Linked DNA regions of Homo sapiens. The protein of the gene in region 1 purifies or fractionates together with the protein of each later gene. This does not show direct contact. Each region holds a gene or a part of one and is shown on either strand. Other genes may lie near its edges. The genes, in order: CDC42BPG and CPNE2.

The links.
Region 2: the proteins of CDC42BPG (region 1) and CPNE2 purify together in Homo sapiens (co-immunoprecipitation; one large-scale study listed by IntAct). This does not show direct contact.

What each region holds. Positions count from the first base shown.
Region 1 is NC_000011.10:64,834,601-64,838,406, forward strand, and holds part of CDC42BPG (serine/threonine-protein kinase MRCK gamma), read right to left. Parts: intron 3,563-3,806; coding exon 3,483-3,562; intron 2,420-3,482; coding exon 2,322-2,419; intron 2,220-2,321; coding exon 2,139-2,219; intron 1,931-2,138; coding exon 1,827-1,930; intron 1,697-1,826; coding exon 1,517-1,696; intron 1,252-1,516; coding exon 1,162-1,251; intron 1,022-1,161; coding exon 900-1,021; intron 820-899; coding exon 747-819; intron 554-746; coding exon 447-553; intron 364-446; coding exon 249-363; intron 1-248. UniProt on the Homo sapiens protein: May act as a downstream effector of CDC42 in cytoskeletal reorganization. Contributes to the actomyosin contractility required for cell invasion, through the regulation of MYPT1 and thus MLC2 phosphorylation.
Region 2 is NC_000016.10:57,109,310-57,113,115, reverse strand, and holds part of CPNE2 (copine-2), read right to left. Parts: intron 2,409-3,806; 5' UTR 2,374-2,408; coding exon 2,194-2,373; intron 1-2,193.

The DNA.
Region 1 (3,806 bases):
TAAGATGCTTTCTAGGCCTGGCTGCCTCAGGGACCCCCTGCTACCAGAGCATCCTGCTACCCATGCCACCCAGCCAGGCTCAAAGCTCCAGCTCAGCCAATGACCCACTGTGAGCTCAGGGAAATCACTATCTCTCATGAGCTTGGTGTCCCCACCTCCAGTAGTGACCTTCAGTAGCAGGGATGCTGAGCTCACGGAAGGTCAGTGACTTGCCCAAGCCAGCCCCCAGGGGCATCTCTGGGGCTCACCAGTGGCCGGGCAGGGAGCGTCTGGGTGCCTACGTTCCTCAAGGACTCCAGCTCCTCTGCCATCTTGGTGGCCAGGGCCTGCAGGTAGCCTCTTGAGACCTTCTCATCATTCACCCTGAATGGGAAGGGGCTCAGGGTCATGGGCTGGGCCCTCAGTCTCGCCTGCGTTCCCCACCCCGACCCACCCCTGGCACCCACCAGCTGAGGATGTCGGCGAGCTGGGCCTCCCAGTTGCTCTCCGTCTCCCGCCGCTCACCCTCCAGCCGCTGCTTGCTCTCCTGCTCCTGGGCCAGCTCTGCTTCTAGCTGGGGCCGGCCAGAGGAAAGGTCAGCCCCAGGCCCCAGCAGTCCTGGGACTGCCGTCTCCCTGTAGGTACCCCAGCACCCCGAGCCCCGTCCATGTCCACCCTGCTCACTGGCTGCAGCTTGCCCACCCCTCAACTGGCTCCCCATTGCCTTGTCCGTCTGTTGTACCCTCCGTCTGTTGTACCCTGCTCACCCGCTCCTGCTCCCGGCTCAGCCTCCGGTTTTCCTCCTGCAGCTGGCACAGAGCCTCCTCCTTACCACTCGGCCTGGGGAGGAGAAGGCCAAGGCCGTGACTCACCGCCCAGGCCAGGCCCGGCCCCTCCCTGCCACCAGCTGCCTGGCTCACCTGTGGCTGTGGGCCTGCTCCAGCTGCTCTCGCAGGGCGGCCACCTCCTTCCTCAGTTGGGCCTCCTGAGGCCCACCCTCAGGGGGTCCCATCCCGTTGGTCTCAGAGGCTGTGTGGATGGTCTTGGGGACATGGAGGGGGTCAGGGCAGAGACCCAAGATGCCATGGCCCACCCACCTGGGACACAGGCCTGGCCCTGAGGCTCTGAGTGGGGTCAGGCTGGTGGGGAAGCACCTCTTGCCAAGGGGGAGGACTTGACTACCTTGGCCTGGGACGACTCCTCAAGGCGTTGCTCCCACTGTCCCTGCAGCTGCGTCACCTGCCGGCTCAGGGAGGACACCTGGGCCTCCAGCTGTGAGGGGTGCAGAGGCAGGCCACTGCCAACTCTGCCCTCGGCAGCCCCTCTGCCCACCTTACCATGGACTCCAGACCTGCCAGCCACAGTGGACATGAGGAGGCATGGACTCCCAGACTGCCCCGTCCCAGCCACCATCCCCTGGCCTAGCCTCTGCCAGCTACAACCGGGAGGCAGCATCTCCCACCAAGCTCCCCATGCTCCCTCCAGGCACACTGGGGGCAGGGCCCAGGTGCTGTCCCTACCCACCCTGGTCACTCACCTCCCTCTGGGCAGCCCGGGCTTCCTCCAGCTGGGAGCTCAGGGCCCGGGTCTGGCTAGCTGTGGCCGCCTCTCTCTCCTGGGCCTCCTGTAGCCTCTGAAGCAGCTCCTCCTGCTGCCCCTGGGCCCTGCAGAGCTCCTGCTCCTGAGCCTGCAGCCCTGCCCGACCCTCGGCCAGCTCCTGAGGAGGCAGGGGAGGGAGCGGGGAAGGACAAGGCCCAGAGTCAGGCACGAACCGTCCATGGAGCCCAGGGCCACTCACCCACCTCACCCACCTCACCCAGCCCTCACCCACCTCACCCAGCCCTCACCCGGTGAAGTCGGTCAAGCTCCTGCCGTAGGTCACTGTCCTGACCTGGGCTACCAGCTGGGGGCCCATCCGTCTGGGACAATGAGGCCTTGTCCCTCAGCATCTCTGCCAGGAAGAGTCACTGAGACCTCGAGTGCTGGCGGCCCCAGCCTCTCAGCCCAGGAGCAAGTCTCCTTGGCCTGTTTCCCACACGCGGGCTCAGAGAGTATAAAATGCTCTCCCAGGATCATACAGCTTGTCCAGGGCAGGGCAGGACCCGAGCCCAGGTGGGACTCAGCCCTGGGGGGGGGGGGGGGGTGGGCGGAAGGGATACCTGGCAGCCTGTCCCGCAGAGTCTGCACTTCCTTCCGTAGCTGCTCCAGCTCCCGATGGTCTGTGGGGGCGTGCAGGGCCTCTGGAGGGGAGGTGGTACCCACAGGTGAGTCCACTCCTCCATTCCCGCAGCAGCAGCCCCTAGGGCCAGCACACCCAGGCCCGGCCCAGCCGCTCCCAGTACCTTGGTGCTTCCTGCTCAGCTCCACCTTCTCCTGCTCCAGACACTGGAGCTTCCGCTCCAGGGCAGCCCAAGCCTCAGAGCTGCTCTCAGGACTGTGACTGTAGGGGGACAGGGGCCATGTTTGTTGGTAGAAACCTCACCCCACAGAGTCTCCTCCATCCTCCTGGACCGAATCACTCATTAATTGTGAAACAGCCAAAACAGACCCTGCCCTCGGGAGACCCCAGACTGGTGCCACGGGTGGCAGCCCGGGGTAGCAGCTGCAGGGCACAGGCTCCGGGTCCAGGCCCAGGTTTAAACCCTCATCCTGGCCCTTACAAGCTGTATCACCTCGAACCCAATGTATTTTACCCTCAGTTTCCCCAGGGGAAGATGGTGGTGACAAGGCCTCTCCCCAGGGCTGTCGAGGACAGGATGTGGTGACAGTGGCCCGGCTGGTCTAGAGGAGTGGGGATCTGACCCATTTCCTTCCACCTCAGAGCACACCGCACCAGGACCTCACTGCGGTCTCAGGCCAGCCCCTCGAATGGGAGTAGGTGGAGATAATCCCACCCATTTTGAGACAGAGTCGCTCTGTCACCCAGGCTGGAGTGCAGTGGCGCAATCTCAGCTCACTGCAACCTCCGCCTCCCGCGTTCAAGCGATTCTCGCTGCCTCAGCCTCCCAAGTAGCTGGGATTACAGGCGCCCGCCACCACGCCCGGCTAATTTTTGTATTTTTAGTAGAGATGGGGTTTCACTATGTTGGCCAGGCTGGTCTCGAACTCCTGACCTCAGGCGATCCACCCGCCTCGACCTCCCTAAGTGCTGGGATTACAACCATAAGCCACCACGCCTGGTCCATCCCACCCATTTTACAGAGCCACAAAGTGAGGCCTGGGAGCAGTAGGGGCCTTCGAACCCTGCACCTCTGGCTCTAGGTGCAGCGCACCCTCGACCTTCGTGGAAGGCGCCATGAGAGCCATGTGCTGGCATGTGGCCCAGCAGGACCTGGGTGTGGCTTCACCAGGACCCCGAGGATGAGGGCTAGAGCACCTGCCACATGCAGATACTGGGGAGCCCTTCTGCCCTCCTTCCCAGGGCCCCAGTGGGCTACGCGCCCAGTGTCCTCCAGGTCAGGCAACCCCGAGCCTCCCACCAGGTGTGTGAGGACTAGCCTCACCTGCCTGAGGTGTAGGTGAAGCCCACGAATGGCAGGTGATGGCCGGAGAAGGCCCCGTGGGAGGGCGGTGGCAGGGTCCCCTGCAGAGGGAGAGGGAAGGAGAGTCAGAGTCCACAGGCCAAGGCCCGAGGCCCAAGGCCCAGGAGCCCCCTGGGACCAGGTGCGACCACCTCCTGCACAGGTGGGAACTCAGGGGGGTAACACAGCCCAACCCAAACAAACCCCCAGCTCCCACAAGTCTCCTAGGAGCTGCTGGGAGTTTTCTTCCTTATACGGATTCTAGTTAATAGAATGATACCTGTGGTCAGAGGCCCTTCCCTTGAC
Region 2 (3,806 bases), on another chromosome or scaffold:
GAGAGGTTAAGTGACTTCCCCAGGGCTGGACAGCTTGTGGAGCAGGGCCGAGATTTGAAACCGAGGTCTGACTCTGCTACCCACACTCTTAATTCTTTGGCCCTGGCTCCCTACCCAGGTGCCAGGGTAAGAGCTCAGGCCCTGCCCCTGCCTGGGTAAGAGATGGAGGACAAGGCCCTTTCCCCATCTGGGCCTCCGTTTCCACCTCTGTAAAGGGAAAGGATTTGACTACTTGCGGTTTTCACTTTTTATTTTGGGAAAACCCTTTTTCAAACCATGTTTTACATGGAAACTGAGAGAGGAAACAGAAAGCAGGGAGGATTCTTCGGGGGAGGTGGGGTCAGGGACTCCCCACGGGAGCGCGGGGAGATATTTGTATCTTGTATAGAATCCTGACACTGTGCAGCCCAACACCCCACCTACTGTGGATACCAAAGCCTGGCTGAGGACAGGGCCTGGTACTGTGGGTCAGTGGTGGCACTGGGACAGGAAACCCGCCTCCTGGCCTCTGGATGCTGAGGCCCCAAACCGCGGAGTCTGGGTGACAGTCTATTTTGGGGCCCAGGCTGTGTTGACTTTTCCTCCCACCCAGTCCATTTCCAAGGGCTGGAGCAGCAGGGACGGAGGAGGTCTTGGCCCTGGGCTATTTTTAGCCAGGGTGGCTGGCCTGGGTGGGGGCAGAGGTTGTCAGGGAGGGTGGGGGATTGTGCTATGAGTCAGGGGGATACCACTCCCTCGGGGCACTCAAGGGTTCTAGAGACCTGGTGGAAGGGAACTGTGCCCCCAGACATGCCTCTCACAGGCTTGTGGCTCCCCCAGGAGTCCTCAGCTGGCCCCATGTCCCACCTCCCACTTACAGTTGTACCATCAACAAGCTGGGTGACACAAAAAAGTCCCTACCCACTCTGGGGCCCCTGTTTCCCCCTCTGTAAAGTGGGTCAACAATCCCACACCGTTTTCTTGGCATCACAAGAAGGAGCCAACATCCATGGGAACTCTTTGTAAACCACAGTATGTTCAGGTGAACTCCCACCGTGGCCTAGTTAAATATCCATTAAAAAATACACACATATTTTGGGAAATATACATGCATATAAAGCCATCTGGAAGGCTGGATACCAAACGGTTAACAGTGGTTCTCTATGACAGGTGGGTTCCTAACAATTTTGATTTTCTCCTTTAGGTTTATCTGGATTCTCTACATTTACTCCAATAGTTTCCTTTTGCAAAAGCAAAGCAAGTTTTAAAACCTGAAGGTCTGAACAGCTTAGGTTTCTCAACATCCTTCCTCAAGCTGCAACTCTTTCCAACCTTCAAGCCAAAGTCTTCCAGCTCAGAAGTCCTTGCCTGGGGCACCATTAATATCCCCAGATCTGGGGCCTTCCAAGGGAGTCAGCAGAAAAAAAATATATAATAATTTCACAGATGAGGAGACAGGTTCAGAAAGGGACAGCTACTTGCTTAAGGCCACACAGCAGGGAGTAGCATCACTGGGCCTTGGACCAGCTCCCAAAGCCTGAGCTCACTGTTTCTCTGTTTCTTACTGACCATGTGTTCATTTAGAAAGGTTATTTAAAAGCGGAAGCAAACATTTCATAAAACTATAAAATGTTAACTATATATAACAATTTATAACAAGATGGGGCGTGGTGGTTCATGCCTGTAATCCCAGCACTTTGGGAAGTGGAGGCAGGTGGATTGCTTGAGGTCAGGAGTTCAGGACCAGCCTCGCCAACATGGCGAAAACCCATGTCTCTACTAAAAATACAAAAATTAGCTGGGCGTGGGGTGCACACCTGTAGCCCCAGCTAATCGGGAGGCTGAGGCAGGAGAATTGCTTGAGCCTGGGAGGCAGAGGTTGCAGTGAGCTGAGATCTCACCACTGCACTCCAGCCTGGGGGACAGAGAGATTCCGTCTCAAAAAAAAAAAAAAGATATCAAATAATCACTATAAATCATATAAATATAAATCTATAGATTTTAATTGTAATAATTTAAACACAAAGTAATATTTTAAATATATTTAAAATAAAATTTCATTTTAAGAGTAACAATTTACCAAGTAATCCCCTGCCACCAGCCCACACTCCAACTACTTCCATCAGACATCCTGGATCCCAGTCCTGGGAGACTCCCCCTCCCCAGCAGCCTAGCCACCCCCTTACCCACCGCAGACACACGGAAGAGCCTCACCTCGATCCATCTGCCATTGTTCTCTGTAAAGAGGACACAGAAGGGGTCGGACTTGGAGGTAACATCCCGGTCCAGTAGGTTCTGGCCACTCACTGACAGCTCCACCTTGCACACGCAATACTGGGGGCCCATGGGGGCTGCCCCCGCTGCTGGGGCACCCCCACTGGGTATGTGGGCCATGGGAGCCGGTGGCGGTGGCAGGAGTTCCTGGCAGTCTAGGGGAACAGAAGTGAGGGTCAGAGAGTGGACAGACACCTGCTATGCTGCCCCACCATAGGGAGGCATTACCACCTGGCCTTTAAGAGGTGAGTGGAGAGATGGAAGGCAAATTGAGGCGGGTTGTCAAATAACATAGGCAAAGGTTTGAAGAAAGAAGAATGCAAGGAAATGCATGAAAAGGGAGTCTCAGCTGAGCGCAGTGGCTCACGCCTATAATCTCAGCACTTGGGGAGGTCAAGTGCCTGGAAGCCCGGAGTTCAAGACCAGCCTGGCAACAAGGAGGATCCTGTCTCTGCAAAAAATATTTAAAAATCAGCTAGACATGGTGGTGCGTGCCTGTGGTCCCAGCTACTTGGGAGGCTGAGGCAGGAGGATTGCTTGAGGCCAGTAGTTCAAGGTTGCAGTGAGCCGTGATTGCACGTCTCTGCACTCCAGCCTAGGCGACAGAATGATACCATCTCAAAAAAAAAAAAAAAAAAGAAAAGAAAAGAAAAAAGAGTCTCTGTCTCTGGTAGCTGTGTTAAATTTGTCTTTGAAGTTTTTCTCTGCTGTGGTCAGTCTTCACCTGTAAGGATGCACAGCTCCTTGTGTGTTGCTCCGTCACATGAGCAACAAATCACAGTGGACATGGGTGTCTCAGATACTAATTGTGCCAGGAAAACCTGGGCTTCTCCTGAGCAACTAGCATGTTGGCATCTTGTGGCCACAGTGGAGCTGACAACTGCTCAGGCTTCTCTCCTTCCTACTTTGGCCACTAGGAAGCTCACTTCTGGTAACGTCAGAGGCGTTTAAACCAGAGCAACTCCATCTTGAATAGGAACTGGGTAAAATAAGGCTGAAACCTACTGGGCTGCATTCCTAGATGGTTAGGCATTCTGGGTCACAGGATGAGATAGGAGGTCAGCACAAGATACAGGGCATAAAGACCTTGCTGATAAAACAGGCTGCAGTAAAGAAGCCAGCACCAAAACCAAGACGGCCATGAGAGTGACCTCTGGTCGTCCTCACTGCTACACTTCCACCAGGGCCATGACAGTTTACAAATGCCATGGCAACATCAGGAAGTGACCCTATATGGTCTAAAAAGGGGAGGCATGAATAATCTGCCACTTGTTTAGTATATCATCAAGAAATAACCATAAACATGGGCAACCAGCAGCCCTTGGGGCTACTCTGTCTATGGAGTAGCCATTCTTTTATTCCTTTACTTTCTTTTTTTTTTTTTTTTGAGGCAGAGTCTGGCTCTGTCACCCAGGCTGAAGTGCAGTGGCATGATGTCAGCTCACTGCAACCTCCACCTCCTGGGTTCAAGCAATTCTTCTGCCTCAGCCGCCCGAGTAACTGGGACTACAGGCACCCACAACCACGCAAGGGTAATTTTTGTATTTTTAGTA